Linked DNA regions of Homo sapiens. The protein of the gene in region 1 interacts with the protein of each later gene in a pairwise test. Each region holds a gene or a part of one and is shown in the gene's direction. Other genes may lie near its edges.

The links.
Region 2: the proteins of BSND (region 1) and ARFIP1 interact in binary tests that used the Homo sapiens proteins (3 or more experiments, as listed by UniProt).
Region 3: the proteins of BSND (region 1) and LAMP2 interact in binary tests that used the Homo sapiens proteins (3 or more experiments, as listed by UniProt).
Region 4: the proteins of BSND (region 1) and HIP1 interact in binary tests that used the Homo sapiens proteins (3 or more experiments, as listed by UniProt).

Annotation. Positions count from the first base shown.
Region 1 is NC_000001.11:55,008,933-55,015,932, forward strand, and holds part of BSND (barttin), read left to right. Parts: 3' UTR 1-7,000.
Region 2 is NC_000004.12:152,774,115-152,783,486, forward strand, and holds the start of ARFIP1 (arfaptin-1), read left to right. Parts: upstream 1-5,839; 5' UTR 5,840-6,112; intron 6,113-9,372. UniProt on the Homo sapiens protein: Plays a role in controlling biogenesis of secretory granules at the trans-Golgi network. Mechanistically, binds ARF-GTP at the neck of a growing secretory granule precursor and forms a protective scaffold.
Region 3 is NC_000023.11:120,424,233-120,431,296, reverse strand, and holds the end of LAMP2 (lysosome-associated membrane glycoprotein 2 isoform A precursor), read left to right. Parts: 3' UTR 1-2,670; coding exon of another isoform or gene 2,671-2,813; 3' UTR 2,814-5,149; downstream 5,150-7,064. UniProt on the Homo sapiens protein: Lysosomal membrane glycoprotein which plays an important role in lysosome biogenesis, lysosomal pH regulation and autophagy.
Region 4 is NC_000007.14:75,727,871-75,736,285, reverse strand, and holds part of HIP1 (huntingtin-interacting protein 1), read left to right. Parts: intron 1-8,415. UniProt on the Homo sapiens protein: Plays a role in clathrin-mediated endocytosis and trafficking. Involved in regulating AMPA receptor trafficking in the central nervous system in an NMDA-dependent manner. Regulates presynaptic nerve terminal activity.

The DNA of each region.
Region 1 (7,000 bases):
CTTCCTTGGTGCTCCCTCTGGGCCCCTGATCCTTTGTGAAGGCCAGTCAGGTTTCCCATTCCTATTGTGTCTTATAGTCCACTTGGTAGATGGCGTGATCCGTCTTTACACAGAGGGAGCCTCATCTCCTCCTGGGCCACATTCCTCCTGCAGCTCCCATCGCTCCTTGGCCAGGACCCAAAACCTTCTGTGACTGACCCCTGCTGACCTCATTCTCTCTGCTCCTCCAGTTCCAAGCCTAGCCCCCCTGCCCATCTTGCGGCTCACACTCTTGCCCAAGCTGTTCTCCTCCACCAGGATGCCCTTGGCTCCCTTTTCAGCTTGGCAAATTCGTGCTCACCCTTCAAACCCCTACACAGATGACCTCCCTTGGAAAGGTTTTCCTGATGTCGCTGCCTCCTGGAACCAGGTGGTCTTGCCTCTCTGCGCTGCCTTTGGGACCTGTATATTTGTCAGTGTGGCATGGCTGCCTGCCTCCCGTTGAAGGGCAGCATCTTGACTTTACTCACCTTGAGATCGCCTGTGCCCAGATGGGCCTTTGGCCTGGCCCAGAATCGGTGGTCATCAAGGGTGTACAGAACTCACCAGGACCCAGGAACCTGTTGCAGATAAAATCACTCTCCCCCACGTTCCCAACTTTTAGACTCACAGCCCTCTTACTTCCCAGCATTCAAACTTCTAAATGGCCTGTATGTATTCACAAAGCAGGCAAAAAGCCCCCAGAGGAACACCACCCCCCACCCCTGCCTCTGGAATACATTTGCTTTGACTTGGAATTGTAGGTGAAATTCATCTTCCTGGCCTACTTCAGTTTGAATCAGTTGGCTAGCCAGGTGCGGTGGCTCATGCCTGTAATCTGAGCATTTTGGGAGGCTAAAGTGGGTGGATCACTTGAGGCCAGGAGTTGGAGAGCAGCCTGGGCAACATAGCGAAACCCTATCTCTACTAAAACTACAAAAATTAGCTGGGCGTGGTGGTGCACACCTGTAGTCTCAGCTACTTGGGAGGCTGAGCTGGAGGATAGCTTAAGCACAGGAGATGGAAGTTGCAGTGAGCCGAGATCGCACCACTGCACTCCGGCCTGGGTGACAGAGTGAGACCCTGCCTCAAAACAAAACAATTGGAATTGGATGGCATTTAGTGAGCATCTACTATATGCCAGATATTGAGCTGTGATCTCTAGGGGTAAAGAGACATGAACTACTGACACCGTGCTTGCCTTCAGAGGGCTCACAATCTAGTGAGCTTGATTTCTGTGAGTGCAGAGCAGAAGCTGAGGTGGGAACAGAGAAGTAAAAAATGGACACACCAGAGGCAGAAGAGTGACAGCCTCCCAGCTGTTTGGGGCAGTTGAGTATGGTGGGGAAATAGCTCAAGCTGTCTTTGCAGCCCCTGAAGACATCACTGTACCCTATTGAACCATCTCAGGGTGATGCTATTGTTACGCTGATCCCTGCAACGCTTGCCTGTGCCCCAGCCCAGGATCCTGGCAGCTGCAGAGAAAATGGCAGTAACACTACCTCAAACCAGGACCACGCCCTCAGAGCCTGCACCCTGGGCCACCTGGGAGTCAGAGACCTTCACCTGGGCTATGGGGTTCTGGGTTGAGGCTGGGGTTCCCGGCCTAGGGAAGGGCTTCCGGGTTGAGGCCGGGGGTCCTGGCCTAGGGAAGGAGATGCCCCTGTGTGCTGGGTTACAAGGTCATGGCCCTGGGAACACACTTCCTTTTCTTTCTGGGTCATTTCTGCCTCTGCAGTGAAGGATGCCACAGGGTACACCCTCTCTGCTGTCATGACTCAGGACAGGAGTTCCTGGTCACAGCTGAGTCTTCGGATGAGGTGAGGGGTAGCATGCTCCTGTGCTCTGTTGCCTAAGGCAGGGCAGCCTACAACCCACGTTAGAAACAGCGTCAGCACTAAGGGCTAAAATAAAACTACTTTCAACATTTAAAGGGGTCATCTTCATTCACCTGCAAATTCTTTTCTTTAAAACCACCCCTTCCCTCGGGGCAGGATACGTGAGGCCTTACGCCTGACGGGCACCAGAGGCCCTCTTCCGGAAGTAAGCCCTCACTGCAGTGGCATGACCGTGGGGTGTGCTGTGTGGTGCTGAATCTCAGGAGTGATTCCCCACACCCCTGAACCACAACCGCAGTGGCTTTAGACTTAAACAAGAGCCTCTGGTTGCTGGGCCTGCCAGCAGGAAGATGGTAACCCTGTTCTAGAGTTAGCATCTGCAGGGGGCTTGGGGTAGTGGAGTGAGATGGTGAGACCCAGGCTTGGTCTCCCTGGCTCTTGCTGCATGATGGGGAGACCACACACCTGATCTGCCCAGGAAGGTCCCGGTTGACACCGACTGCCTCTGCTAAGTTATTAGGAGGCCCCTTTCACGCTCGAAGATACCTCATTTGGATGATACAATGTTACCTTACCTACTCTGTGACCTTTGACAAGTCTGGTTGCCTCCGTAGCCCTCAGCTTTCTCATGTGCAAATGACAGATGAAGTGCGCATATCTTGGAATCTTGGAAGTGATGGGGGTGTTTGATGGGACCTATCTTGTCAATGCCCTGCAGCCAAAGACCACTGGGAGCACACCTCACCTGTGGTTAACAAGCTGGGTTTCTTCTTGCAGTAAGGGGGAATGAACACCACAGCGAACCAGGGGGAGTCTCTGAAAGAGGTATTAGAAAGGACTTGTTACTGGATTTGGGCCAGTGCTCAGTGGCTTGGCGAGGGTTTAAGAAGCAGGCCTTTGCTCTGAACCGGCTGCTGTCAGGAGGCGGGGCTCATTCTATGACTGGGTGTCTTCTTCAACCTTATCTAGGATAAAATAAAATCATAAAACACTGTGCTTCATGCCCCTGGCCTTGCCAACTTGCAGTCCCCTCTAAGAGCATCAGAGCCTCTGGGGCACCCCCTCTCCACTGGGAGAGGGGCAAGGTGCTGGTGAAGGTCCTGGGGAGAAGGCTGGGAGGCTCTGAAAGGGTCAGGAGGGGCCTTTTGGGGTGGCAAAGCCTGGGATTCTAGCGTTCAGCTCCAGGCTCCAGGTGTGTGTGCCAGGGTGAAAATTCCTGCTCTTGGTCACTCTCCTGTCAGGTTGGAGGGACTCTGGAAGTTTCCACCCTCTGGAGAGGGAAAGGCCCTGGAGGGATGGCCCCTGCCCTTAACTGGAAAGGGTGGGCAAGGGAAGGCAGGGGGCCCAGGGGCAGGGAACCTGGGCTCTGCCGACCGCTCGCCATGACCTTGGGTACATCACAGCCCTCCCTGGGCTCCTCTATTCTCTGTAAAATTGGGTGAGGGTGGGCAAGATTCCACTTCTGCTCCCAGTCCCTGAGCACTGTGTGCCTGTCACCATGCAAGACACCGTCACCCCTATTACCCTATCTAGTCCGTGAAACAGCCCTGGGGGACCGATCTGTCGACCCCACATTGCAAATGTTTGTTATAAATCCCAGGCTCCAGAATCAGAAAGACCTGGTTTTACCTTCAGCCTCAGCCAGTTCCTTGCTGTGTGGCCTTGGACAAGTCACAGCCCCTCTCAGAGCCTCAATGTCCACATTTATGCAGTGGGGAGGATAATACCTCCCTCTTGGGCTTTTGTGGAGAAGAACTGGGTATAATGCCTCAGGCACATTTAGGTGCTTAGACAGTGGTGGTCTTCTTCCCTCTCTGGGTCTCTTCCCTCATCTATGCATCAGGGAGCCACTGTCCTGCCTATAAATAAAACAATAGGTGAGTGCATTCACCAGGAGGAAGATGCATGTAAAAGCTTCTTGCAAGGGGTAAAGAAAGTCTGTGTGCCCAGTGCTGAGAGGCAGGTGAGCCAACAGCAAGTGCAGGGACTAAGGTGTATAAAATGCCTCCTGTGGGGCAGGAGGGGAGCAGCATGCTGAGTGAGAGAGGCAGCACCCTGGAAGCTTGGAGGAGGAGCAGGATTGCTTGTGCTGTCAGACAGGTGTCAAACAGGGTTCCAGGCAGCTGCTGAGTGTCAGGTGCTTCCCATAAATCATTTCATTGAATTTAATTTTTCCATCTGCCCTGAGAGATGGGTATTACCAGGGGAGAAACTGATATTCAAACATAGGTCCTCTGAGCCTGTGCTCTTCCCACGATGCCACCTGGTCCACGTCATAAGACTCAACAATGCACCTGTTGTGCTGTGCACACTTTTCTTCATTTCATCCTCGCAGCTTGCAAGGTTGGTGTATTGTCCCCATTTTATTTTTATGTATTTATTTATTTATTTTGAGATGGAGTGTTGCGCTTGTTGCCCAGGCTAGAGTGCAATGGCGCAATCTCAGCTTGCTGCAACCTCCACCTCCCGGGTTCAAGTGATTCTCCTGCCTCAGCCTCCCAAGTAGCTAGGATTACAGGCGCCTGCCACCACACCCAGCTAATTTTGTATTTTTAATAGAGATGAGGTTTCATCATGTTGGCCAGGCTGGTCTTGTACCCCTGACCTCAGATGATCTACCCGCCTCAGCCTCCCAAAGTGCTGGCATTACAGGTGTGAGTCACTGCACCCAGCTGTCCCCATTTTATAGATGAGGAACTGAGGCTCAGAGAAGCTGAATAATTTGCCCATCCTTGCGGAGAAGAGCTAAATGGAGGAGAGGAGGTAGAGCTGCAGGGCTTTCTGTTCCTGCCAGGAATCATCCAGTAGCCCCAGGCCATTCTGACCCTAGTGGGACAGGAGAAAAATCAGTATCAATAAGTCAGGCAGCAAGGTTCCACTGAGCATCTCCCTGTGCTAGTGTGGAGGGAGACACCCCCCTGCAACATCTTCCATGACTGCCTATTGCCCACAAGATAAAATTCAGATTCCTCAGGCTGGCATTTGAGGCCCTTCATGATCTGGCCCCAACTGCCCCATCCAGCTGAATCATCTGCCATGTGCTCCCGTGCAGCAGCCCCGGCATCCTCACCTTTCCAGCCACCCTGCCTTGGCTCATGCTGTTCCCTCCACCCAGGTGCCCTTCATCCCCTTCTCTGTCATCCCTCAAACCCTACCTGTTCCCTGGAGCCTGAATTAGCCCTGCTCTCCCCTTCCACGGTGGAATCCATCTCCACTGCACCCTCTCCTCCGAATCCCTCCTAAACTGTGTGCCCCGCTCTGTCCCCAGCACTTCTGAATGACTAGCTGTGTGAGTACCAGTCTCCCCACATGGACTGGGAGGTCCTTCAAGGACAGGGGCCTCTTCCCCGCCAATACTTCTATCCCCAGGACTTAGCAAAAGCAAGGAACAGTAGTGCTGGTGGAACAGAATTGAACCGAACCGGGTGCCCACTCTGAAGGCTCATGGCCCAGGGGCATGGACTCCTAGCCCAGGGCTGAGGAGCACCAGCTTTGGAGTAAACAGCGCTGGGTTTGAGACTAGGCTTCCCTACTGGCCAGCTCTGTGACTTTGGCCAGGAGACTTAGCCTCTCTGGCCCTCAATTTCCTTATTAATAAATTGAGGTTAGTGATATCGACCCAATAGGCATGTTGTGAAGATTGGATGAGATCATGCATATTGAGTGTAGCATGTGCCTAGCACCTGGTGAGCCCCCAGTAAAGTCAGTTATCATTGTTAGTGTTGCCTGCAGAGATGATGTTACAATGTGTAGACATCAGGTGCCCATGTGCACCTGGGTCGTTCAAGCCTACAAGCACTGTGTCATCCAAGCACATGTATAATTCGAGCTTTGTATCGTCAGTGCTTCCAAGTGCCTGTCAATGGACCCAGCTGGGCTGGTGGCATCAGACTCTCCTGGGAAACTTTAAAAATCTAGTGTCCTAGAACCATCCTCAGAAAAGTCTGGGATGGCCTGGGTTTTGCATAAGCAAGCCTGGTGATTCTTAAGTGCTGAAGGGCTTAGTTGTTTGTTTTTCTTAAATGAGTTATCAAACATTGGATAGCTGGTAGGCAACCCAGAAGAGGTGGGAGTTGCAAGCCAGGACTTAAAACAGTAGAATGAAGGAGTGAGGGTATCTCAGGCAGAGGGCATGGCATAGGCAAAGCCTTGGGGGAAGGAAGGAGGAAGAAGGAGACTGTCCTGGCTGGAGTGGTGGAGGACAGGGTCAGAGAGGGAGGCCGCAGCTTGGCCATGGGGCTTCTTGAATTCCTGCCACGGAGCTCAGATTTGTTCTGATGGGCAAGGGGGATTAATTGATGATTCTTGAGCAGAGGAGTGACATGAAAGAAACATTCAGGTCATATACTAACAGATACAAAAGGGAAAGGTGGCACGTATTGGTGGCAAGAAGGCTGGTTTGTGCCCTGCGGCAGGGATTTCATTCTCAACCTGCCCTGTGAAAGGTTTTTTCCACTCATGTCACTGGGTGGATGCCAGGTCAGGACTGAAGCTTGCAGAGCCGGTGTCCTGGATTCCTCCTTGCTGACCACAAATCCAGCAGAGCAGGGCAGGGAACCCTGTGGCAGAGGCTGTTGCTTCCCGCCAAGACACCAGGGCCCTGGCCAAGGCAGTGCTCAGTTCACAGATGACCCAGGACAAGGGCAAATGAGGGCCCCAGTGACTCAGGAAGTCCCCAGGTCAGAAAATGGGCCCCACTGGTGATTCTGCAGATAGTCCCTGCACATCCCGGAGAAGAGCAGACACGGTGTGGTGGGTAGGTGGATGAGACCAGGCTTTGGGGATCAGATCAGCAAGCCTGGGGGTAAGGAGGGCTAGATTTTATCTAGTCATGTGTTCATTCATTTGTTCACTTATTCATTTATTCTAACCACAAACACTATGCACCTGCTTTGTGCCACCCCCTGTGCTAGGTACTGGGGGAAGAGACATGCATCTGACCCATGCTTGTCTTGGGGGAACCTCTACTACCCCGGGCTAACTGCAGAGTGAACAGTGACAGGTCAGTGCTGAGCAGAGGGAAGCACGGCGGGGATCTGACCCCACCTGGAGAGTCGGCAGGAGCTTCTCAGAGAGGAACTCCCACCAAGCTATGTCCTGAAGGATTCGCTAGGGAAGAGCAGGGAGGGAGAACAGCTTGGGCG
Region 2 (9,372 bases), on another chromosome or scaffold:
ATCAGAAATAAAATCTATCATGTCAAACAGCAAGGATTATAGAAAAAGTAACTTGAATTTCTTCTTTTCCCATCCTGGTTAAAGTGACATAATATATACTATCAGAGATTGCTCATTATCTTGAGAAAATTGAAAATGTGATAACTTTATTTAGGAAGATTAGGTTTTTCCCCTGAGTTAACATTAGTCAAAGCTACAATTTTCCATGATAAGATACATCTTTATTCCTAAAAATAATCACATTTCTAATGCCAAACAGACAAATTAGACTTTTTCCCTAGAAAAGAATAAGGCATCAATACTACCTGATCAATGAAGCTGACATTCTCCAAACTCCAACAGTATAACATCTGGGATATTCTTTTGCAAGGAGTAATGGCAGCAGCTAATATTTCTCAGAATAGTCATCCTTTCAAGCTCATTAATCATTCTCCCTCTTGAAAATATTACAGCAGAGAAATGCTATTCTACATGTTAGGGAATATTTTCTCTATGTCAATGGTTAAGCTAATCAGAAAATAAGAATATGCAAATCATCAAAAAAGACTCACCAAATTAATTTCAAATAAAGAAAACAATGGTCAATCCTACTATTAATAAGAAAAACATAATCTTCTTTTAAAAAAAACATTTTTGTTTTTGCCTATCAGAATGTCAGTATCTAGCGTTTGCTGGGGTGAGGTAACAGGTTGTTAGGAGGCACATAAATTGTTACAATACGCTTATGGAGGGCAAATTTGCAATATGATATACAAACCTTAAAACTGTGTATAACGTTTTATCTAGCAAGTCTATATCAAGGATTTTTTTTTTTTTTTTAAGAGGGAGTATCGCTTTGTCACCCAGGCTAGAGTGCAGTGGTGCAATCTCAGCTAACTGCAACATCTGCCTCCTGGGTTCAAGCAATTCTCCTGCCTCAGCCTCCCAAGTAGCTGTGACTACAGGCATGTGCCACCACGTCTGGCTAATTTTTTGTATTTTTAGTAGAGACGGGGATTCACCGTGTTAGTCAGGATGGTCTCCATCTTCTGACTTCGTGATCCGTTCACCTTGGCCTCCCAAAGTGCTGGGATTACAGGTGTGAGCCACCATGCCCGGCCTATATCAAGGATTTTATCCCAAAAGAATAATTATAGATGTAAAAATAATTTCTTACAAATGTATTAGTTTTCTACTGCTAATGCAACAAATTACCACAAACTCAATGCCTTAAAACAACACCCATTTATTATCTCACAGTTCTGTAGATCTTAAGTCCAGGTGGGCTCAACTGGGTCCTCTGTTTAGGGTCTCACAAGGTAGAAATCAAGATGTTGGTCAGAAGCTGGGCTCTTATCTGGAGGCTCTGGGGAAGAATTTGCTTCCAGGCGCAATCAGATTGTTTGCAGAATTCAGTTCCTTGCTGTTGTAGGACTATGGTCCCTAGTTTTTTTGGTTGGCTGTTGGCAGGGACTACTCTCAGCTTCTAGAGGCTTCCCTCAGGTCCTTGTCTGTGGGAAATTGTCATTTCAGCAATGGAGAACATTCCTCCTGTAGAGTCTCTTTCACACTTTGAATCTCTCTGACTTCCTCTACTGCCACAAGCAGGAGAAAACTCTCTGTTCTTAAAGTGCTCACTTGATTAGGTTAGGTCTACCTAGAATATTGCCCTTTTGATTAATTCAGAGTCAATTGATTAGCAACCTTAATTATATCTCCAAAATTCCCTTGCAAGTAACATAACATAATCATGGAAGTAATATCCCATCATGTTCACAGGGAGAGGGAATTATACAAGGTAAGTGTCACTGGAGTTCATCTTAGAATTCCACCTGCTACACGGGACTATTCCCTGCATTGCTATATAATTACAGACAAAATTGAAAATATGCAACAAAAAGGATTCATTCAATAAATTACAAAATATCTACATGCTGAAATACTATTGTGCCACACAAAGAGAATATTTAATGATATGAAAAAATTCCATGATACATTAAGTGAAAAAAGCAAAATATAAAATTATATGTCAACAAATACAACATACACTAAAAATTACATCAGAGCAGAGGCTCATGGTTATTCCTACACAGCTCACTTCCAGCAAACCATAGGGTGTCAGTAGCAATTTGTTAAATAAATGAAGAAATATATATCTACATAGATATAAAGAAAAAAAATACATTGACCAAAATGTTGAATGTTCTCTCTAGGTAAATGAATTATAAATAAGTTCAGTTTTTTCCTCTTTATAGTTAAAAACATTTTTACAACTCTAATGTTCTACCTTTTTTTTCTTCCACAACAGTCATCTTAGAATAATGTTCTACTTTTGCACCAAGTTATTAAAAAAAAAATCAGTATCAGAAAACATAAAGCTGGCATTCTTCCCATTCAGAATCTCTAGGAGTAATGAGTCACTCTCCTTTCATCAGTAGTTTATACCCCTCTGCAGAGAATCAACTACTTTCCAAACTTAAGACAGCACTCACTCATTGTCTTCTACAGATAGATAGCAACTATATCCACTTAATCCTACTTGTACCATTACCCTAAGTAGCAGGAGTTGCTGGTATTCTTGAACTTGCCTGGTATGCAGCAGACAACATATTTCCATAACTCAACTAGAATTGGCCAATTTCCTGGTGTTATAAGAGAATCAAGTAAGTCCAAAGTTCAGTTTCCCAAAAACCATCTTATTTATCATGGGAAAACATGCAAGACAGTAGTATAAAGCAGACTGAAATGGGGGCTCAAATCAAAGGCTGTAAGATCCAAAAACAGGGAAAAATGAATTCTCACAGGGAGGATAAATAATGGGTTCATGACAGAAGTAGCATCTGAACTCAACTGTAAAGGATGGATAGGTACATCACAGGTAAGGAAAAATAGGAAAACATTTCTGCTGATAAGAATAGACAATAAAGCATGGAAGAGGGAAATATGCACTTTGAAGCATATTAAACATTTCTTTGCAACTAAAGTTTCATATCTATGTCTATATTGGTATTTATACCTATCTCTATTAGTTGGCTAAATTAGCACTTTTCCTTCAGGTATATAAGAGAGTGCTCATTTGCAAGATTGAGGCCAGATCTTGGTAAGCCTTTAATGCCAGGATAAAGAATTAGACTTCATTGAGTATGCCACAAATGCCATTCAGGGCTACTAGAGTTCCCCACAAGCCCAATGAATAAATAGCACCTGATTTTTCAAAAGCCAAATAAACAGCCAATAGCAGTGCAAAGTTAAATGAGTAGATAATCTCCATGTCATAAGTATATATGGAAGGCAGCTATTCCCTTTTTTCTTACCTCTCTAAAAATAAATGACAATTCAGAGAAAAGTAGTAATCTTCTATTCTAAACAAAATGAGCAGGCAGGGTCCCCCAAGTTTTAGGGCAAAGGAAGAAAGGAAGAAAAGAAGGGAGGGAGGGAGGAAGGAAGGAAGAAAAAAAGGAAGGAAGGAGGGGAGAAAGGAAAAAAGGAAGGAAGGGAGGGAGGGAGGGAAGGAGGAAAGAAAAAGAGGAAGAAGGAAGGAAGGAGAAGGGAGGGAGACAAGAAGGAAAGGAGGAAAGAAAAAGAGGAAGGAGGGAAAAAAGGAAGAGAGGGAGAGAGGGAAGAGAAAACAAGTCTCCTCTAAGCAGGGCCAGGCTTAAAATGATGTTTTTCAGTTAGTACCAAAAATATTCCCCAATCCAAAGAACGCTGGTTTGCTGCTTCCATTGTCTCAAAGGATGTATAGAATTCCACTATTTTCCATCACCAGCTGAAGTAGTTTCTAGTGTTTTCTTGGAGCCAGACTACATTCTAATTTCCTTCAGGGCAGTGGAAATCATGGAAAGATTAATCCTGTGTATATATAGCCTTGCACAGCGTAATACTGTGGATGAGGATTAATCGTACACAGTACCAGAATTCACTGAAGAGTATCTAACTTGGTTAGCATCTTCACCAAGCAGAAGTTAGCATTAGTTCCAAATCCATCTGAATCTCCATCAAAACCATCAGCAGCTGCCAAGGAAACTATGAACAAACTAAAGCAAGTCTTCACCTTTCCAAAATAAGAAACACTTCAGAGTCTGACAGTCTAATAGTTAGACTAACTTTAGTCAAGCTAAGCATCTCCAAACTCAAGAGACAGCTAGCAGGAATCTTTAAGATAACAGCCAGCAAAAACAATTTAGTATTCATTGTCCACATCATTCAAGCACCGCTGAGTCCTACCGTACACTTCCTCCAAGTCACCCTTCTGAAACCCTAGGAACAACACTTGTACTTAGCTGCAAGTTCTGTAGTTGCTCAGTTCCTACACAATTACAGCAGTAATTAATTTAGATTGGGATTATTTTCTTATAATTGAGAAGACTAATGGTCTCCAAACCAACAAGATGGCTTTGTACAGAAAAATCCACAGTAAGCTATAACAATTGAAGTTACAGTTTGAGTGGGTTGGCATATATATTTGCTCCTTTCTTTTGTTTAAGACAGAACCACTTAAGATAAGAGATTTATGTTTTGGAATTTCAGTACTATTTTTTTAAGAGGTGGTATCCTAGAGAGCTCAATCAATATTGTTATACATTGGAAACATTTATGGTGCCATAGGTGTTTACTATTCACAGATCTGGGGAAGATACCTGCCAGGGATATTTCACTACACTGAAACTCCCTGGAAATCTGTAGAGGTAGAGCTCTGCCTTTGGGCATTAGTCATTAAAAATATCTTGTCAGCTACTGTGACAAGTAAAGGCAGCTGAGAAGTACGGTCTAAAGAAGGGTAAATCTCGCCGTGTGCACAGTTACCCTTCGCATTTCTACAAGTGAAATGGGAGTAAAAATGAGCATTCAAAGCTGTCAAAGGAAAAGCAGTCCAGCAGTTCGAAGGGATATTCTGTGATGGACCAACTGTATGGTACAGTGTGTAAATGAACTTCAGGTCTATCTAGCGCCACGGGGGAGCCACGCTTTCGCACCACTGAGCTCTGGGGATGGGGAGAGTAGTGCAGGTTGGGGCCCCGTTTAGGAAACTACGAAGGGCTCTGAGAGAGCGAATTGTTCAGCAGTTTCCGTGACAGAACAATGATCTATTTAAGAAGTAATGGGGCAAGCAAAGAAAGCAGAGCTCGGTCATCCGGAAAAAGAAAGAGGAGCCGGAAAGAAAAGTATCAAGGAATCTACTGTGAGAGAGCGAGCAAAAAGCAAAAAGCGATCACAAATCCAGAGCAAGTAAGAGCTCAGGGATGCCGGGCCCGGGGGTCTAGCCTTTCTGAAGGGAGAGGGCTCCCCAGGCACGGGGGCAGCGCGAGGCAGCGCCCGCATTCCGTCTGCTGCCTTATCTTCGCATTCTCCCTACCACCCCCACCTTCCCCCCGGGACTGGAATAACCTTCTTCGTGCTCTCCGGTGGCTGAGAAAGCAGCTTTCGCTCTTCTGTGGTAGCGTGGAGGTGAGGTACATCTACCTCCACCCTCCCGGCACCAGCTCACGGTCTGTTGGGGGGGTCCTCCTAACGTGTGAGGCTAGGGTGTGTGAATGAAAAAGAGGGAGGCGGAGGCCTCCTGGAGACCTTCGACCTCTCAAGACCAGGCAGGGGCGCCCTTCCGCAAGCTCCCAGCTCTAGCCGGTGCCTCTGGCCCCGCGCGCATTAGGTCGCTGCCAGAAAATTACCCGGGCAACGACACCGCCGGAGTCCCGGATGTGGTTGCTAGGGCAGCAGAGGGAGGGGCGTAGCCCGCCTCCCGGAGAAGGGCGGAGGGATCCTCGTGGGAGGTGCGCTGACACCACCGAGACGTGGCCGGGCAAGGCCGGATTGAGGGAGAGAGAGGCCGTCCAGGGCCAGGGACAACGCTACTTCCGGTCTCCTCACTTCCGGCTTCGCTGCTCTTGGTTCTGGTTCTGGAGGCTGGGTTGAGAGGTCGCCGGTCCGACTGTCCTCGGCGGTTGGTCAGTGTGAATTTGTGACAGCTGCAGTTGCTCCCCGCCCCCGAGCAGCCGAGGTGCGTGGGGGAAGGGGAAGAAGGAAAAGGTCCGGGTCGCGTTTCCGCTCAGTTTTTGCCAGGGTTGAGGCGATTCCAGAGAGCGGCGGAAAGGATAAGCCTCGACTTAGAAGCTACCGAGTTACCCTAAGAAAGGTGAGGGCGGAGCTGGCTCGCCTGGGAAAAGGCGGGGGAAAGATGGTTTGAGGTGGCTGGTGGGGCGGGCACGTTGCCTACGGGTTCACCGTTCCGAACTTTCACAGGGCACGCCTCTCCTTAGTCTGTGCCGTATCTGCCCAAGTGTTATGCCTTTGGTTTCTTCTGTCCTTCATTCCTTCTGTCCCTCTGAGTGTGCCCCCGAAACAGTCGAGTGAAGGTGTAGGACCGGCCCTTGCAGGGAGGCACTCTCTTGGCTTTGCATACATTGGGTGGGAAAAGGAGTTGCAGGATCCAGAATCCGGACCTTTCTTGACAAAGTGTCGGAGTGGGCCACCTTCAGGCTTGCTGTCCAACCCTCATTTCTCCCCTCTTCTCCCTGCATCCCCAGCTTCCTCTCTCCCGCAGTGGGAGGAAGGGAGATAGTGACAGTCCCTCTGAGAGATTCATCTGGCAGTGGTGCAGAGAGGAGTCTTGCCTGTGAAATGTCCCAAGCCTGACTAAGGAATGCTGGAGTTTTGGAAAGGGAGTTGTTCGATTGTCTTCTGCTCCGTTCCTGTTTGCCAAGTTACTACTGTTTACGTGTCTAGGAAAAGGAAATAATTTTTTAAAAACAGTTTTTAGATGCTAGACGTTTTTCCCTTTTACTTTATTTTGTTATTACTTCCTTTGTTTTGTTCTTACCTTCCTCTTGAGCCCTTTGATTTCAAAAAGTTTACACTTTATACTTCCTGCAGATCCTTTGGCCACTCTTAGGATTTCTGTCCCCCGCCCCTACCCTGTTTTCTCCTAAAGTATAAAATTCATCTAACTACATTATTATTTGATAAGGAAAAGCCGGAAGAGATCCAGAACTTCGCATAAACTTTTGCTTTCATACTTTCACCTGTAAGGGTGTGTTCATGTTTGCCATTTAATTAACTTAATTGGCATAGAAATGTGCACCAGAAATGGTTACCTTAAGTCAGCCGTCTGTTAAGGCTTCAGGAATTGGCCTTTTCTTTTTTCTTTTTTTTTTTTTTTTTTTGAGACAGAGTCTCACTCTGTCGCCCAGGCTGGAGTGCATTGGCACGATCTCGGCTCACCGCAACGTCCACCTCCCAGGCTCAAGCTTTTCTCCTGTCTCAGCCTTCTGAGTAGCTGGGTTTACAGGTAGGCGCCACTACCGCCTAGCTAATTTTTGTATTTTTAGTAGAGACGGGGTTTCACCGTGTTGGCCAGGCTGGTCTCAAACTCCTGACCTCAAATGATCCTCCCTCCTCGGCCTCCCAAAGTGTTGGGATTACAGGCGTGAGCCACCGCGCCCGGCCGAATTGGCCATTTCATTGCTGTTCTCTCAGAGCGGCTACAGATTACTATATTTTACTGCTGCCTTAATTCTGCTTTTCTTTCGTTTGTCCTGTGGTGTTTTTTGTTTTGTTTTCCTTGCTTAGCATGACCCACGTCTTCTCCCAACTACCAAGTCTAACACACTTTTATCTGAGAAAAGAGAAAAGATTTCTAATGTATTTTGTGGATTAAATCCCTGCCTCAGTTACTTTAGTTTCTTTCCAAATTGATAAACTGGTTTTCCTTGGATTATGATTTGCCTTAATCCTGGATGATGACTTGGGGTTCATGGCCTAAGGGTCAACAACTTTCAGGGGTCTTCCTCATTCCCACCCCTGAAATTATATGCAGTTTTGTTTGAGTGAATTTTTTTCCCCCCTGGGGAAAGTGTCCATTGTTTTTATCAAATTCTCAAAGGAGATATACAGCCTCTTGATAGATTAAAACCACCACTTAGGCAGTGTCTTGTTGAAGTTAGTGAAAACAGGTTTTGTGTGTGTATGTGTGTGTGTGTTTTCCACTTAGGCAGTATCTTGTTGAAGTTAGTGAAAACAGGTGTGTATGTGTGTGTGCTTTCCCAAACTGTGCAAAGGAGATATATAGCTTCTTGATAGATTAAAACCACCACTTAGGCAGTGTCTTGTTGAAGTTAGTGAAAACAGGTAGGGGTGTGTGTGTGTGTGTGTGTGTGTGTGTGTGTGTGTTTTCCCAAACTGTAAATTGTTTGCTTTGGGACCAAGGAAAGGAGAATGCAGGGATTCTTCTAGTTTGATATTGAAATCTCTCCTTTAAAACATTAGTGTTTCTAAATTCCTTCCTAGACTTACAGAAGGAAATGAGGCTGCCCACTTTATTTCCTGATTTGTGGTTTTGAGGTTTCTTCTTAGGGATAGCTGTTTGTGGTCCATGCTCTGGAGATCCAGTGGATTTACAAACTGATGTGCCTATCTTTAATATGTATTAAATATCACCAACCAACTAGGCACAGTTCAGAGTAAAAAATTTAAATTCTAGTTGTATTTTGCTTTCATTTTCTTAATTTTTTTTGCTTGAGGCATGTACCTTAGGATTTGATTTGGCTTTGCTATGAAAAACAAACAAGATGTTTCAGTGGTGTGGTCCTTTGGAATGTTGTTGCTTATCTTGACATCCCCTTTCCCTCCATTCTGTATGAGATATTTTAATGATTGTTTCTCTCTTGTGAATACGTTAGTATCCTTCCAAGCTTAATGTAAGTTTTAGAGTACATATTTGAACTTACTGATTTGGTTGTGAATTATTTGTTGATTGAGGGTTGCAGTTCTAAAGGTCTGATACTTTTTTTTTTAGAATGTTAACTTGAAGAGACCTATACAGCTCATCATAGTCTATCATGAGTATCCAGTTTCTTCTGCTCACAGAATAAGTTTTCCTCTGTCTAGCAACCTCACTTGGGGGAGCAGTCAACATAAGTTTATAGAGAATAGCGTATGCTAGGCTGGGCACGGTGCCTCACACCTGTAATCCCAACACTTTGGGAGGCTGTGGCGGGTGGATCACTTGATGTCAGGAGTTCAAAACCTGGCCAACATGGTGAAACCCCATCTCTCCTAAAAATAAAAAAATTAGCCGGGTGTGTGTTGCATGCCTGTAGTCCCAGCTACTTGGGAGGGGCTGAGGCAGGAGAATCGCTTGAACCCAGGAGGCGGAGGCTGCAGTAAGCCAAGATCCCACCACTTCACTCCAGCCTGGCCAACAGAGTGAGACTCCATCTCAAAAACAACATCAACAACAGACTAGCTTATGCTAAATTAGTTTCCTTTTAAGGTAATGACAAATTCGGAAGATATTTTATATCTAACACTGTAACAGTTACATTTATTTGCTTACCATGTGCATTAAGCTAAGTGCTTTACATTATTATCTCAAATGATAACCTTATAAAGTGGCTA
Region 3 (7,064 bases), on another chromosome or scaffold:
AAATACATGCAAATAACAAGATTTTCTTACCTCTCAGTTGTTGAAACACTTTGCTTCTTAAAATTGATATGTTGAAACTTTAATTCTTTTATCAATCCCAGCATTTTGAGATCAGTCTTTATTAATAAAACCTGTTCTCTTTAATCAGCTTAAAATCCAAAGTGTCATATTTACTGGTCCTGGAGACAAACTTGTTCAAAAGAACATCAACGTGCAATGTTTTAAGGTCTATCTTAAGAAGCCCTGGCCAAATTTTGATCCTAACCTTGAAGTATGCCTTGAACTTATTAACATGGCCATTATAAGAATAAAATATGTAGTTGTGTCTTAATGGAATTAATAAATGTCATTTCACTACTGGTGTTCTGTTTCAATGTATAAGGACTATAGTGATTTAAACTCATCAATGTGCCTTTGCATAAAGTTCATTAAATAAATATTGATGTGGTATAAATGCCCATCAGATATGCTTAAACTTGGTTTTCAGTTGAATGAAGTAGAGAATGTCCTCAGGACCATCAGCATTTTAAAGGTTATGTGACTTTTGCTGATTTCTCTGAGTTCAAGTTAAGCATGAAGTTAGTACCTCAAGCCTGTGATTTTTCCCTAGGGATGATACAGACCCAAGAGGCTACAACAGAACTTAAACTGGCTTCGTAATTAGAGTTTTTAAGATAATTGTTTGTTTTTCAGCAATATAGACTGAAAAGATCCAAGCATATTTAGCCACTTGCTTTTTTGTTTCTTGTTTTGTTCTTCTTTGGATGCCTGATTAGTATTGAAAGATAGAAATATTCTATGAACTAATTAGGACAGATTGTGTTGTGTTTCTCTACCTCATCTTGTTGATCTCTGGAGCATTAAAATCTATTTAGTGTTGTCATCAGTGTGGTACTTATGAAATGTAAGCTAACAGCAATCTCAGAAGGGAGGCAGTGAAGCATAGCAACTAGGCTCTTGTTTCTTCAAGATGGCCCCTGTGGGGCAGTGCATAGATGGGGGTGTAAAGAGAAGCTGTTGGCATTAAAATGAGCTAGATAATCAGCCCTTGTTGAAGCATATTCCATGGTATAAGAGTAGCACAGACATGAAACATAGATAAAGAAGGAAGGCTTAATAGACTAGAAGACTTCCACATTGAAGTATTATTAACCCATTGTATGTATATAGGGGCATGATCAGAGTCTCTATAACTTCCTGATTAACAATACAGTGTATCTTGTTACCCAGCTGTCAGTCTTTGAGAGCTTTCAGTAAAATATAGTAAATTCTTTCAGCATAGGCTAATGTGTGGTTACTGAGATGAGTGTTGTGTACTCAGAACCGTAGCAACATTTTTATGAATGGTAAAAGTACAAGAGGAGGAAAAGTTAAAATTAGAAGAAAAGTACAAGTTATTGCTTAATCATAAATCACACCAGATAACACATTTTGTTAATTTCATTAGCTATTACTGGAAAGGACCTTAACGATTATTTACAGAAAGGGGAGTGAAATTCATTGAGGTTCCATATCAAGTGGGCAACAAAACTATTACTAGCATTTTGATAAAAATTGCCCCTAATGAAATCTAGTCACTCAACAGTAAAACAACAGCTGGTTTACACTTGAAATTATGAGATCAGAATTGGGCACTTTGGGCTTCCGTACTATGTTTTGCTTAAGTTTTTTTTTTAATACTAATATGGGCTTTTTCAGTAGTAATATACCAAAACACTTCTATTTTAATCTCTGTTTGCTACTTCAAAACCTAATCCTCCTCAGATGGGATCATGAGCATAAGAGGAAAAGAGAAGAGAATGAATACTTGTTGACCTCTTGATGTGTATCAGATGCTTTAGAAATGTAATTGTATTTAATCCTCAAATACCTTATAGGTATTATTATCCCCTTCTTACAGATGAGGAAAGTGAGGCCCAGTTTAAATAACTTGCCCAAGGTCCTTTGGCTAGTACTGGAAGGAGTCAAGATTTAAACACAGTTCTGTCTGAATCCAGAACTCAAAATCTACATTGCACATGTTGCTTTCCTGGTGGTTCGGTGGAATGGACTGCAACGCATTAGATACTGCTGTTATTCTTCCAGGCCACCGCTCAGCTAAAAATAATTGTGTGTGTGTGTATATATATATATATGTACACACACACACATATATATACACACACACATATATATACACATATACATATATATACACATATATATACACACACATATATATGTATATATATACTACATTCTTGATCCTAAGTCTTTTTTAACTTAAATTTTATTACTTATACAGAATTCTTATTTATACTTTAATTATAGGTGTGACGAAGAGAAAGAGAGTAGGGAAATACACAGGCAGTGGTTTTAAGTGTAGATGATGGCTCCTTAACCCAGTGTCATTAGATAATCAAACCTAAAGTCTTCCCATATTAGGCAAGCGCAATTCTCTATTTTGGACCCTTCCCATTCTTCCCTTACCTTCTGCTTTTCGTACTGAGGAATTTCGTGTGATTTTAGATAAAGTGATAATGAGATATTGAGCAAATAAGAAAATAGAGGTAATGCTATAAAAAACTAAGCTATGTACACTTTCAAAATGCATGTTTCTTGCATGCTTTTTACTACTTAATTGCATTCTTTGCTAATTTCCTTTCCTTGCTGTCTGTTCTTTTCTAACAGCTGAAGAATGTTCTGCTGACTCTGACCTCAACTTTCTTATTCCTGTTGCAGTGGGTGTGGCCTTGGGCTTCCTTATAATTGTTGTCTTTATCTCTTATATGATTGGAAGAAGGAAAAGTCGTACTGGTTATCAGTCTGTGTAATCAGTTAAATCTAGTGTTTGTTTGTTTTTTTCAATTAGAAGTTACGTTTCCATTGGCTAAAAGCCAGGACATGCTGTGCAATAGATTGTTTAAGATATGCAGACTAACTTCAGTGAGTTCCTAGCTAACTTGGGCATGAGTACACTTATTTAAGACAAAATATATTAGGACCAATTTTTTTCTGTTTTTTTTCTTCCTTTGTTAAAGTATAATTAAAAGAAAAATTGTGGCTTAGAATTTTTTAAGTAAATAATGATTTTAAGCCCCTGGATCCAATTATGAAAGCATTTTTGCTGATGTGTAATTTTATATGTTACAGTTACTTATATTTTACTACTTTGATGTTATTTGCAAAATCAAAGGTGTTAAAGAATTTAACTTGCTTCAGGAAATAAATTCAAGAACATAGTGGATTCATTTTCATTGGTGGCAGACACGAAATTTGGTTCATGATAAGACTTCCTTTCCCCACCTCCTGATCAGCATTATTTAAATCTGTATTTTTCTGTTAGTTAAGAAAGAAATGGCTTCATGATATTGTATTTAATAGCAAAAGTTTGGCTGTCTTCTTCATTACTGTTAATAGCTACTATATTTTAACAAGGAGATTTCTTTTTTTGTTGTTGTTGTTCTAGAGTTTGGAATATACTGATTATCTCAGACTTGACATTTATACTGAAGGATGAAGTAAGACCTCCAGCTTTTTTTAAAAAAGGTGTTGATTTGGAACACCTGTATGGGTTATGGTTTATTAAGGTTATGGTTTAGAAAGTTTTTTTCCCTCAGAGCCTTAACTTGTTAAGAAGGTTCATTTATCCTGCACTGAAAACAAAAACTCTATATACTTTGTTTGTGTGCCTCCTGCACTCTCCCATTCCCTATGTGAATATGCTCTAGTTGATATTTTTAATATATTGATTTCTTTTTTCTCACAGCAACAAGTGCTTACTCTAGAGGTTAGTGGGCCCTGATATGTCATCAGTCAGATGCCTGCCTAGCCAAAGCTGGACTAAGATTATTCTGTACATTTGTTGATCTTGATATAGACTTATATCCCTGTAGGGACTGCTAATGGCTCCGGCTTCTGGAGTAAGGTACTGGAGACCACTCATCCCTGTGTCTGCTTGATTGGTTCAGCTGTTGAATTGCCCTTTTATTTGGAAGCAGTGTTGAAGTTGTCTAGGGTTCAAATGGCTGCTTTGTACACCTGTCATTAGTATAAGGCAGATGTTTATTTTATCAAGCTATTTTATCTCTACATTTAACTAAAAACAAAAGTTCCCAAAGATCTGCCTTCACTTCAGAAATTTTTTTTGGATTAAAAAAATTAAGCCTGAACCTTAAATAAAGTGAGTTGGTTATTCATTCCAAGGATTAAGTCCCAATCTACCTCTCAGCACAATGCAGAAGCTCACCACTGTATTGCTGCCATTAACTCATGCCAGAACCCTTTGCCAATAACTGGAATTACAAATTTTTGTTAAAGAAAATTTATCAAGATCTTTCTTTACTGCCTTCTCTATATGTACATCTCAAAAACATGTACATCTCAAAAACTGGAGTAGAAAGTTAGATTGCTCAACTACAACTCCTCTAGAACTCTATAGCTCTGACATACAGATTCACACTCTCCTCTATTTGCTAAGTATGTAAAGAATGTTTTCTTTTAAAATGTTCTCTTTTGAGAACAACTGCTTATTTGTTATAAAAGCATTTGGTTAAAATGATGTCATCATAAAAAACAGTGGCTTTGTTTCAATACATATTTTTGAGATGATTATCTAGAAGCCAGATTAATAAAATCAGCTTGTGACCTTGCTAAGCATATAAACTGGAAATTCAGATACATTCAAAATTATGGGTTCATTTAAAAGTGTTCTACCTTTTGGGTATGAGACTAATATCACTAATTCCTCAATAGTTATCATGGCTCTATCTTAATTAATTAGAAAATATGTGTGTTTAATTCTTTGAGAATTAAAATAGAGAATATTAACAGAGGGTTAAAAACTGCTTCAACTCCAATAAGATAAAGGAAGCTCAAAATCTATGAGCTGAGTGTTCAATTAGCTTTGCCTACTGAGTTCAATTTTATGTCAATACAACAGTGGATCAGACAGTACGACTTTGAACTGGTGAATGTAAACAATTGTTTTTCACCTAAGCTGCTTTGGAAGAACTGATGCTTGCTGCTAACTAAAGTTTTGGATGTATCGATTTAGAGAACCAATTAATACCTGCAAAATAAAGCATACTGTGGTACTTCTGTTTGATCTAGTATGTGTGATTTTAGATTGATGGATTAAAAATTAATAAAGATCATACATTCCATACCACTATGGATAACCTCATTTTTATTCCATATGCTCAGCCTTAAGAGCTTAGACTTAATTGTATAATCTAAGTTTCTTGAATTCTAGTCTCTTGGATTGTCAACAGGAATCATAGGATCTCATAGATCTGCAACTTAACCAAGTCCCGTCATTAGGAAGGCACTAGTACAGAACCTTTAGTACAGACACCTCAAATAGGGGGACCTACTTAGTCATGGAAATTACAAGAAAACATCAAAAACAAAATATGGAAATCTAACAAATGTAAGAACATCATAACAAACGTACTTTCCGCGTATGTCTGTCTGCATTGATGAACTATACTAATTGTTGAAGTTCATTTCATTCTGAGTGAGATATACCTCAGGGATATGGTGGGGCAAGGGGAGGAGCTATCCATTTTGTGAATTTCCTTTAAATTCCTTACAATCTAGTCTAATGCTTAATTTTTATATAATTGGATAAAACAACAACACATACATAAACATACTCCTTTTTACATGAGAGGTATTTTTGGTGGGAGAAGGAATTAGACATTGGCTCCCTCCATAGTTCCAGAATAATAGGGTTTCATTTTCTGAAAGACGTTTAATAGCTTGTAATTAAGTCAAAAAATGGCCTTCATAACTGCCACCTCATGAGGCCTCTGAAAGAAGCACTTTAAGTTGACTGATAATTAGGAAGAGTGGTTCGATATATGTTGCTGTGAGGGTTACAGTGTATCTAAAAAGTCAACTTGGAGGGTCATCTTTTTAACTTCAATGTGTATACTTTTTGAATGCCAGAACTGCCTTTAGAATTCTGATGAAATGTTTTTCCTTTCCTTTGTTTTTACTGTCTGCATGTATTTTGATAGCAGTGTAAGTTTGGGTCCCTTTAATTTCAAGAGGTATGCATAATGAACAGGAGAAATCTTGCCATACAATGCATCTTTAGTAGGAAAAATCCATAATTTTATTGAGCAGTTACAGTGCTGTGCACTTTAAACACCTTATTTCATTTAATACACCAACTCTCTGAGGTTGGGGGTATCATTTCCAGTTTACATATGGGATAACTGAGGCTTGAGTTGGTTACTTAACCAAAGTCACACAGGATTAAGTGGCAAAATGGACATTTGAACCCAGTTCTGTTTGCCCGCCAAAGACCATGCAGTTAACCACTATACATCTGCCTTTTGCAGAAGCAATAGATTTTTTTAAAGCACATGCCTTACATTAAATGGTTACAGAAATCTGACTTCTGTACTCTTCTATCTTGTATGTAGTTGCCTTATAAATATTCTTCAATATTCTTAAAATAACTTGAGTTTTATCCAGCCCACTTGTGGGGCAGATGGATGTTGTGGCAGCATGCCTTTTGGAAGATCAAAACCAAGGCCAGTTTGCACTGTACCTCATCAGTAATATTAAGCCCGAATGTCACTTTTTTCAGGGTAGCCTCATCTAGTTATTCTGATCACATATCATTGTCATTCTGCTCTCAAACTCTTCTGTACCATGAATCATTTTGACTGTGCATTAGTGTGTTTAAGAAACTAAATGGAACTGTCTCTCTTCTCACTTTCCTTAATACCATTCATACCCCTTCCCTTCATCCCTCAGCTTTAAGCGCATTGTAACCATGACACTCAACTATCTTTGCCAGGTGGTTCTGAACCTTATTAATACACAGTTCCTATTCCCAAATCTAAGGCCTTTTGGGAAGGGTTTCAAGAATTTTTTTTTTTTTTTTTTTTTGAGACAGAGTCTCACTGTTGCACAGGCTGGAGTGCAGGGGCGCGATCTTGGCTCACTGCAACCTCTGCCTCCCAGGTTCAAGCTACTCTTCATACCTCAGCCTCCCGAGTAGCTCCCAAGTAGCTGGGATAGCCACCACGCCTGGCTAATTTTTGTATTTTTAGTAGAGACGGGGTTTC
Region 4 (8,415 bases), on another chromosome or scaffold:
TTGTGAAAGTTTCCACCCGTGAGTGGTATGTTTCCCTGCTATCCAGGGACGGCCCAACAGGAGAGTCTAGGTCAGTGTTTTCTGGTGTTTTACATTCTGTGGGACATTTGTGATTGGCCAGATTTGACCTGGGTGGGGTGGGTGGGGGTGAAGTAGAGTGGAGCAGAAAAAGAGAATTTTTCTGATGTTGAAACTCTTATTTTTAACTTTTTTTTTTTTTAAGACGGAGGTCTCACTGTGTTTTCCCAGGCTGGTCTTGAACTAGCCTCAAGCGATCTTCCCACCTCAGCCTCCCAAAGTGCTGGGATTTCAGGTGTGAGCCACTGCACCCAGCCTCTGGTGTTGAAACTCTTTAGGGGTGTAGGAGAGTAAAGAAAAAGAACCAGCCTGGACAACATAGTAAGACCCCATCTCTACAAAAAATAAAATTAGCTGGTTGTGGTATCACGTGCCTGTTGTCCCAGTAACTTTGGAGGTTGAGGTGGGAGGATTGCTTGAGCCCGGGAGGCAGAGGTTGCAGTGAGCAAAGATTGTGCCACTGCATTCCGGCCTGGGCAACAGAGTGAGACCCCATCTCAAATAAAAAAAAAAGAAAAAGAAAAAGAAAAGAAAAGAAAAGAGAACAGCCCTAAACCCAACGTTAGTCAATCTGCAAAAAAATTATTTTGTTTAATGACTACCTATCAAATGTATTATGAGGTTGCAGAGCTTGGTAAGCAAAGGGAAAAAAGGGGAAGAATGTATTATGAGATATAAAAAATGAATTAGAAAAAATTTAATGAGTTAGGAGACCATGAGAATCAGCCAAGGTATAATAATAACTAACTAATTATTGTGTTTGGCAGTATTCTAAGGACATCATTGTATTACCTTTTTAAATCTTGACAAGAACGGATGAGGTGGGTATCAGCCACATTTTACTCTCAGGACGATTGAGGCACAGAGAGGTTAAGTAACTCACCAGAAGTCACACAGCTGGAAACGGTCTCAACCTTTACCCACTGCCTCAGGCAGCCTCTGAGTACTGAGCAGATGCTGGCATTGGAGTTAGAAGGCATTTGAGGCTTACAGCTGGGCATGTACATGGGCCTTGTGGTCTCTGGGAAGTTGTCTAACCTTTCTAAGCCTCGGTTTCCTTATTGTCAAATAAACATAATACTTACCTGGCTGATTTATTGTGGGGATTCAATTAAGCCCAATATGCCTGAAGGCATTTTGTAAACTGTGGAGCACTAGTTCAGTGATTATTGTTATAATCTGACTGGGGAGACGAACCCGAGACAGCAGAAGTGTGAGCAATCAAGCAGGCTGTGATTAACTCTTCCTTAGAGGGATAGATGTGGTACTAGGTAATGGGATAATTACCAAGAGCACGTGGATAAAGCACAGGCTTTGGGGTTGGGAGCCCTCCCCGAGGACTGAAGCACATCTTGTAGCATGAGTTAGTGCTTGCTGGGTGGAGGAGGGGATGGGGCATTCCAGTGACAGAAGAACATAAATAAAGAGACATCTAGACTAGGCAGATAAACTTCCCAGCGGGTGCAGTGGAGACTCATTGGCTGGGGTAGACAGAGAGGCAAAATTGGCCACTCCCTCCTCTGAACTATAGCAGGGCTGGTGACCTCTCCTAGTTCCTGTGACCTTGTGCTGGCATCATTTCTCTCTGTGGCCCCCATTGAACACTGAGCTTATTGAGGGCAGGTCTGTGTCTTGCTCTTGCCTGCATCCTGAAGCTCATGGTTAGTGGTGAATGGGGTCAGCAAGGGAACCCTGGGCCTAGGTGGGTAGTTCAGCCCTGGGCCACAGGATATATTAATAATTACTTTATTTATTTTTATGTAAGAGATGGTCTCGCTCTATTGTCCAGTCTGGAGTGCAGTGGCACCATCATAGCTCAGTTTTGCCTGGGACTCCTGGGCTCAAGTGATCCTCCTGCCTTAGCCTCCTGAGTGCTGGGACTACAGGAGCATGCCACCATGCTTAGCTGATCTTTAAAATTTATTTATTTATTTATTTATTTATTTATTTATTTATTTATTTGAGACAGAGTCTCACTCTGTTGCTCAGGCTGGAGTGCAGTGGCGCCATCTCGGTTCACTACAACCTTCGCCTCCTGGGTTCAAGTGATTCTCCTGCCTCGGCCTCTCGAGTAGCTGGGATTACAGGCGAGCGCCACCACGCCCGGCTAATTTTTTGTATTTTTAGTAGAGACAGGGTCTCACTTGTTGACCAGGCTGGCCTCGAACTCCTGACCTCAGGTGAGCCGCCTGCCTCAGCCTCCCAAAGTGCTGGGATTACAGGTATAAGCCATCGTTCCTGGCCTAGAATTTTTTTTGTAGAGATGGGGTCTTGCTGTGTTGCCCAGGCTGGTCTTGAACTCCTGGGCTCAAGCAGTCCTCCCGCCTTGGCTTCCCAAAGTGTTGGGATTACAGGTGTGAGCCGCCGTGCCCGGCCTATAATTACTTGTTTTCTTATAATGCTCCAGGGTCGCTGTTGGTCTAGCCTTGCCTCCCGCATACCCAGTCTAGAGCCTGGCCACATGCCCATCAAAAGACTCTCACTGCTCTGCCTGCCTTCTTCTGTCCTGGCGTCTATACCCTCAGACCAGCCTTGCATACCTACTCCTGCCAGCCTCCTCCAGGAAGCCTTGCCTCCTCAACTCTCCTGCACCATCCTCACATTTCACCTGGCCACTGTCACTGCCAGAGGAGGCACCACTGACCTGCCTCATGGCCCAGCCACTGCACCCATCTCCAACCAGACCCTTGGTGTGTTCCCCACCCAATCCATCACAAGCCACTTTCAAGCTTTAGGGAAGTGAAAAGTACTGCCTGCCCTCAAAAAAAAAAAAAAAAGAAAAAGAAAAGAAAGGAAAAGAAAAGAAAACCCAGCCGTAATAAGGAGACCTTATCAGGAGTACTTTACAGTTTATAAAGCATGTTTCTAGCCATCATTGGGACCACACGGTGGTCAGTCATTATCATTTTCATTTTATGGATGAGGACATCGTGACTCAAAGAGCTTGGTAACGTGCCCAGGGTCATCCCACGGGTGAGTGGAAGGGCCAGGATTCAAAACCAGGACTCCAGGTTCCAAGTGTCAGGCCCGTTCGACCACACTGTCCTCCCACCAGCCAAGAGGGCAATTCTGGAATCAGCCAGGAGGGCTGTCAATCACAGGACAAATAAAATAGTCTGTTTTTACTTAGCTGGAAAATGGTTTTCTCCATGGTTTGTTTATTTCTTCAACATCCGTTTAGTGAGCACATACCGTGGAGGAGACACAGAGATGAGTAAGATAAAGAGACCGGCTCTGGGGGGCTCGTGAGTCAGCAGGGAGGCAGACTGGCCACTGCGGGGCTCCTGGACAAGCCTTGGGGCTCTGATGTGGTCAGGCCCCGAAACACCAGCATCACCAGGGCCATTAGGATGTTGGGCACCACCCAGAACTACTGAATCAGGACTTGTCGTGTTCACCACAGCCCTGGGTACTCTGTGTACGCTGATGTTTGAGCAACAGTGCTCTGTAGTAGGTGAGTTCTGGGATTAGAGGAAAAGACACAGAGTGGGGAACAAACCTTTAGAGAGTCAAAATCTCTTTGGGTGAGCCGGGCGCAGTGGCTCATGTTTATCATCCCAGCATTTTGGGAGGCTGAGGCGGGAGGATGGCTTGAGCCCAGGAGTTCGAGACCAGCCTGGGCAACATAGCGAGACCCTGTCTCTACAAAAAAATCAAATCAAATCAAATAATTAGCTGGGCATGGTGGTGCTGCCTGTAGTCCCAGCTACTCGGCAGGCAGAGACAGGACGATTGTTTAAGCCCAGGAAGTTGAGGCGGCAGTGAGCCGTGATCACACCACTGCACTCCAGACTGGGTGACAGAGCCAGACCCTGTAAAAGGAAAAACAACACAAAAAAAGCCAGAAACAAACAAAAAAAGTCGGTGGATAGCGCATACGTCAGAGCAAAGGATCTTAATGCATCCTGCGTTGAGAAGAGCCTTAGATCCTAGAGAGAAAGAGATAGAAACAAATATTTATTGAGGGCCTGCTGGGTACCAGGAACATGCTGGGTGATTTATATCTATGATTTCATTTTAATAGCTCAGGCTCAGAGAGGCTAAGTGACTTGTCCAAGGTCACACAGCGAGTGAACCGAGAAGCCAGGACTTCACAACCAAATGGCAAAGTCCTTTTTTTCATGTTTACGTTGCGGGTACTTCTGCCCTCTTGCTCATGATCTTAAGCAGATGCTCAGCCTTAGTTCAGCAGCTAAAAAATTTTAGGGCTGGGCTAGAAGGATCTGCGGTTCTCAACCCTGGCTGGAGAGCTCTTTGAAAAAATAAAATACTGTTTCTCTGGGCCCCCTGCATAAGGATTCTGTCTCATTGGTATGGGGTGATCATTGACATTTTGTAAAGTCCCAGGTGGTTCTCATGTGCAATCAAGATGGTGACCGTGGGTCCTGATGGGTTCCCACACCCCTGGCACCCCACGGACTTTGGGTGGCTCAGTTGGTTCTGGTTATACTCAGAAAACCAAGATGGCCCTAAGCCTGCTTCCTGCAGGTAAGAAGCATCTGTGTCAGGTTTGTTCTTTAGGAATGCAAATGCTCAGAGCCAGGCTGTGTAGCACCCTGAGCCTTGAACCTGGCGCCCCACCCCTTCTGCTTCTGGAGCAGGTGCACAAAGAAGTCACCCCTTGCCTGAAGTCTGAGCAGGTGCCTTCTTGCAAGGAGAGCTGCTCGTGAACCCCATTTTTCCATTTACTTGACAATCAGAGCTGGCGTTTTTTTTTTTTTTTTTTTTTGAGTTGGAGTCTCTGTCACCCAGGCTGGAGTGCAATGGCGCCATCTCGGCTCACTACAATATGTGACTCCTGGGTTCAAGTGGTTCTCTCACCTCAGCTTCAGGAGTAGCTGGGATTATAGGCGTGCGCCACCATGCCCAGCTAATTTTTGTATTTTTAGTAGAGACGGGGTTTCATCATGTTGGCCAGGCTGGTCTCTAACTCCTGACCTCAAGTGATCCGCCCACCTTGGCCTCCCAAAGTGCTGGGATTACAGGCGGGAGCAACTGCGCCTGGCCCAGAACTGGCTTCTTAAACTTCTGTACCCTTCTATCTCCCCAACCTTGCTCCTTTAGTGGGTATTGAAAACTTAAGAAGGAAGTTAAGAGCTTTCTTTTGGTCCCTGGTTTTGTACTGTCCTGAGTTTCTTCCCAGTGATGGTAATGGTAATCGTCAACATTTACTGACCAGGCATGGTGGCTCATGCCTGTAATCCTGGCACTTTGGGAGGCTGAGGCGGGCGGATCACTTGAGGCCAGGAGTTCGAGACCATCCTGGCCAACACGGTGAAACCCATTCTCTACTAAAAATATAAAAATTAGCTGGGCGTGGTGGTGCATGCCTGTAATCCCAGCTACTCGGGAGGCTGAAGCAGGAGGATCGCTTGAACCCGGAAAGTGGGGAGGTTGCATTGAGCCGAGATCACACCACTGCACTCCAGCCTGGGCAACAGAGAAAGACCTTGTCTCAAAAAAAAAAAAAAAATTACTGCCCACATACTGTGTGCAAATGGTAAAGGCCTTACATGAGCCACCCTTTTCGATCCTTGCAACACATGTATGAATTATAATTCCTATTTTAGGCTGGACACGGTGGCTCACACTTGTAATCCCAGCACTTTGGGAGGCCGAGGCGGGTGGATCACCTGAGGTCAGGTGTTCAAGACCAGCCTGACCAACATGGAGAAACCCTGTCTCTGGTAAAAATACAAAATTAGCTGGGCGTGGTGGCGTGCGCCTGTAATCCCAGCTACTTGGGAGGCTGAGGCACGAGAATCACTTGAACTCGGGAGGCAGAGGTTGCAGTGAGCTGAGATCGCGCCATTGCACTCCAGCCTGGGCAACAAGAGCGAAACTCCGTCTCAAAAAAAAAAAAAAATCCTATTTTACAGAGGAGGAAATTGAGGCTTTCAGGGGTTGATAGCTATGCTCTCTGTTTGTCCTTCTGTCACTGCCTGGCACCCTCTGCTCTCTTCCTCCTTATGCTTGGGGTCCCCAAGGCGTTGTCCTCACCCCACTTCTCTTTTACCTCCTGTCCACTTCCTTTGCCCTCACCTCTGTCTGATGGTTTCTGTTCTCACTTCTGTGGCACTGACTCCCCACATCTCCCTCCTGACTTCCCAGCCTGAGTGACCACTTCCCACTGGACAACTGTACCCCCTCGGGCGGCCCCATGGCAGGACAATGGTCCCCACCTTCTCTCTGGTGTCAGTTCTGAGCCCTCCCTCCTTCCTGCCCTCACAGCCGCATTCTGTTGAGTGCCTCTGTGAGACTTGTCTCACCCATTCATCCTGTGAATCTTGCATTTCCTGCTCTTATTACATCTTGCCTGGATTTTTGTCATCTCATCCTGCCTGCCCTCTAAATCACCTGTTCTGGACAGTGTCCCTCAAATCCAACACTGTGATTTTTGTTTGTTTGTTTGTTTTGTTTTGAGACAGAGTATCGTTCTTGTCAACCAGACTGGAGTGCAGTAGCGCGATCTCGGCTCACTGCAACCTCTGCCTCCTGGGTTCAAGCTATTCTCCTGCCTCAGCCTCCTGAGTAGCTGGGATTACAGGCGCCTGCCACCATGCCCAGCTCATTTTTGTACTTTTAGAAGAGACTAGGTTTTGCCATGTTAGCCAGGCTGGTCTCGAACTCCTGACCTCAGGTGATCTGCCCACCTCAGCCTCCCAAAGTACTGGGAATACAGGCGTGAGCCATTGCGCCCGGCCGCTTTTTTGTTTTTTAAGAGATAGAGTCTTGCTGTGTTGCCCAGGCTGGAATGCAGTGATGCGATCATAGCTCACTGCAGCCTCGAATTCCTGGGCTCAAGTGATTCTCCCACCTCAGCCTCCTGAGCAGCTGGGACTACAGGTATGTGCTGCCACACCCAGCTAATTAATTTTTTTTTTTTTTTTTTTTTTTTTTTTGCAGAGACAAGATCTCACTACGTTGCCCAGGCTTGTCTCAAACTCCTGGCCTGAAGCGATCCTCTCGCCTCAGCCTCCCAAATTGTTGGGATTATTGAGTCACTGCACCTGGCCCAACAATGCTTCTTCTTTTTTTTTTTTTCCTGTTCTAGTTTCTTATTTTTATTCACTTGTTAGAATTTTGGTTTTTTTTTTTCTTCTGTTTCCTCTACACTTTTTTTCCTCAACTTTTAAGTTCAGATGGTACATGCGCAGGCTTGTTACATGGGTAAACTGCATGTCACTGAGTTTTGGGGTATGAATGATCCTGTCACCTAGGTAGTGAGCATAGTACCCCATAGGTAGTTTTTCACCCCACTTCCCCCCACCATACTCCCCCTTCACTGACAACTACTTTTATAACTGCCCTTTTTCAAAAACTTTTGCTGCCTTCTCTGAGACCCTGCCTGATATGGCACCATCAGGGTCCCTCGTCCCTGGTCCCTGGTCCCTGTCCTTTTTTTTTTTTTTTTTTTTTTGAGACAGAGTCTCGCTGTGTCTCCCAGGCTGGAGTGCAGAGACCCCATCTCTGAAAAAGAAGATTAAAAAAAATAAAAATAAAGGGTTGGTGCTGCACGTTAAGAAGGATGGGGCGTGTCCCTATGGCCCAGGAGATCAGATTCCCTGCCCCACTTGGGCACTGAAAGGGTTCCCCCTCTGGCACTTCTGCAAGGCACTGATGAAGACTGTTTTCTGCTCCCCATTCATTGGCCCACTTATTCCACTGCCTCAAGGCGAGGTGTGGCGGAGACCTGGGTGTGGCAGCGGGCACAGCCTTGTGCAGTGGGCTGGCAGCCAGCTCTCCTCCTGCATCAAGGAGGGTTGATGACCTGGAGAGATGCCCACCTGGGAAAGAGAACTTGTCAGCCCCACCTCCCGGCAGGGTGGTGGCTGTTTCCTGTTTTCCTGCCTGGGCAGCCAGGGAGGAGCTCTGTTCCCAGTGTGTGGGCAGGACTTGTGAGGGGAGAGGGACCGTGATTTAAGGTGTCTGCTGGCTCAGAGGAAGAGAGAATGGCATCTTTTCTTGGATCAGAAAGGTTGCTGCTGCTGCCTCTGCTAATACTGCCACAAGACAGCTCAGGAAGCCAGTGTGGCCTATGGCTTGTGTTTAACACAAGTAACACTATCGTTTAAAGGCATGTTGACACATTACTCCTTTGAAGCCACAGAGCAAGCATGCAGTAGATGGTTGTGGTCAGTTTTCAAATACAGACACTGAGGCTCAGAGAGATTAAAAGACTTGTTTGAGAGCACTCAGGAAGTGGCAGAACTGAGGTTTGAACCTGGCTTGTCTGGCCCCAAATTTTATACTTTCTTTCTGTATCTCCCTTTAAAGCGGAAGCCGGGTCAGTGGCTTAGATATGTGTGACTTAGAAAAGGTACAGACATTTATTTT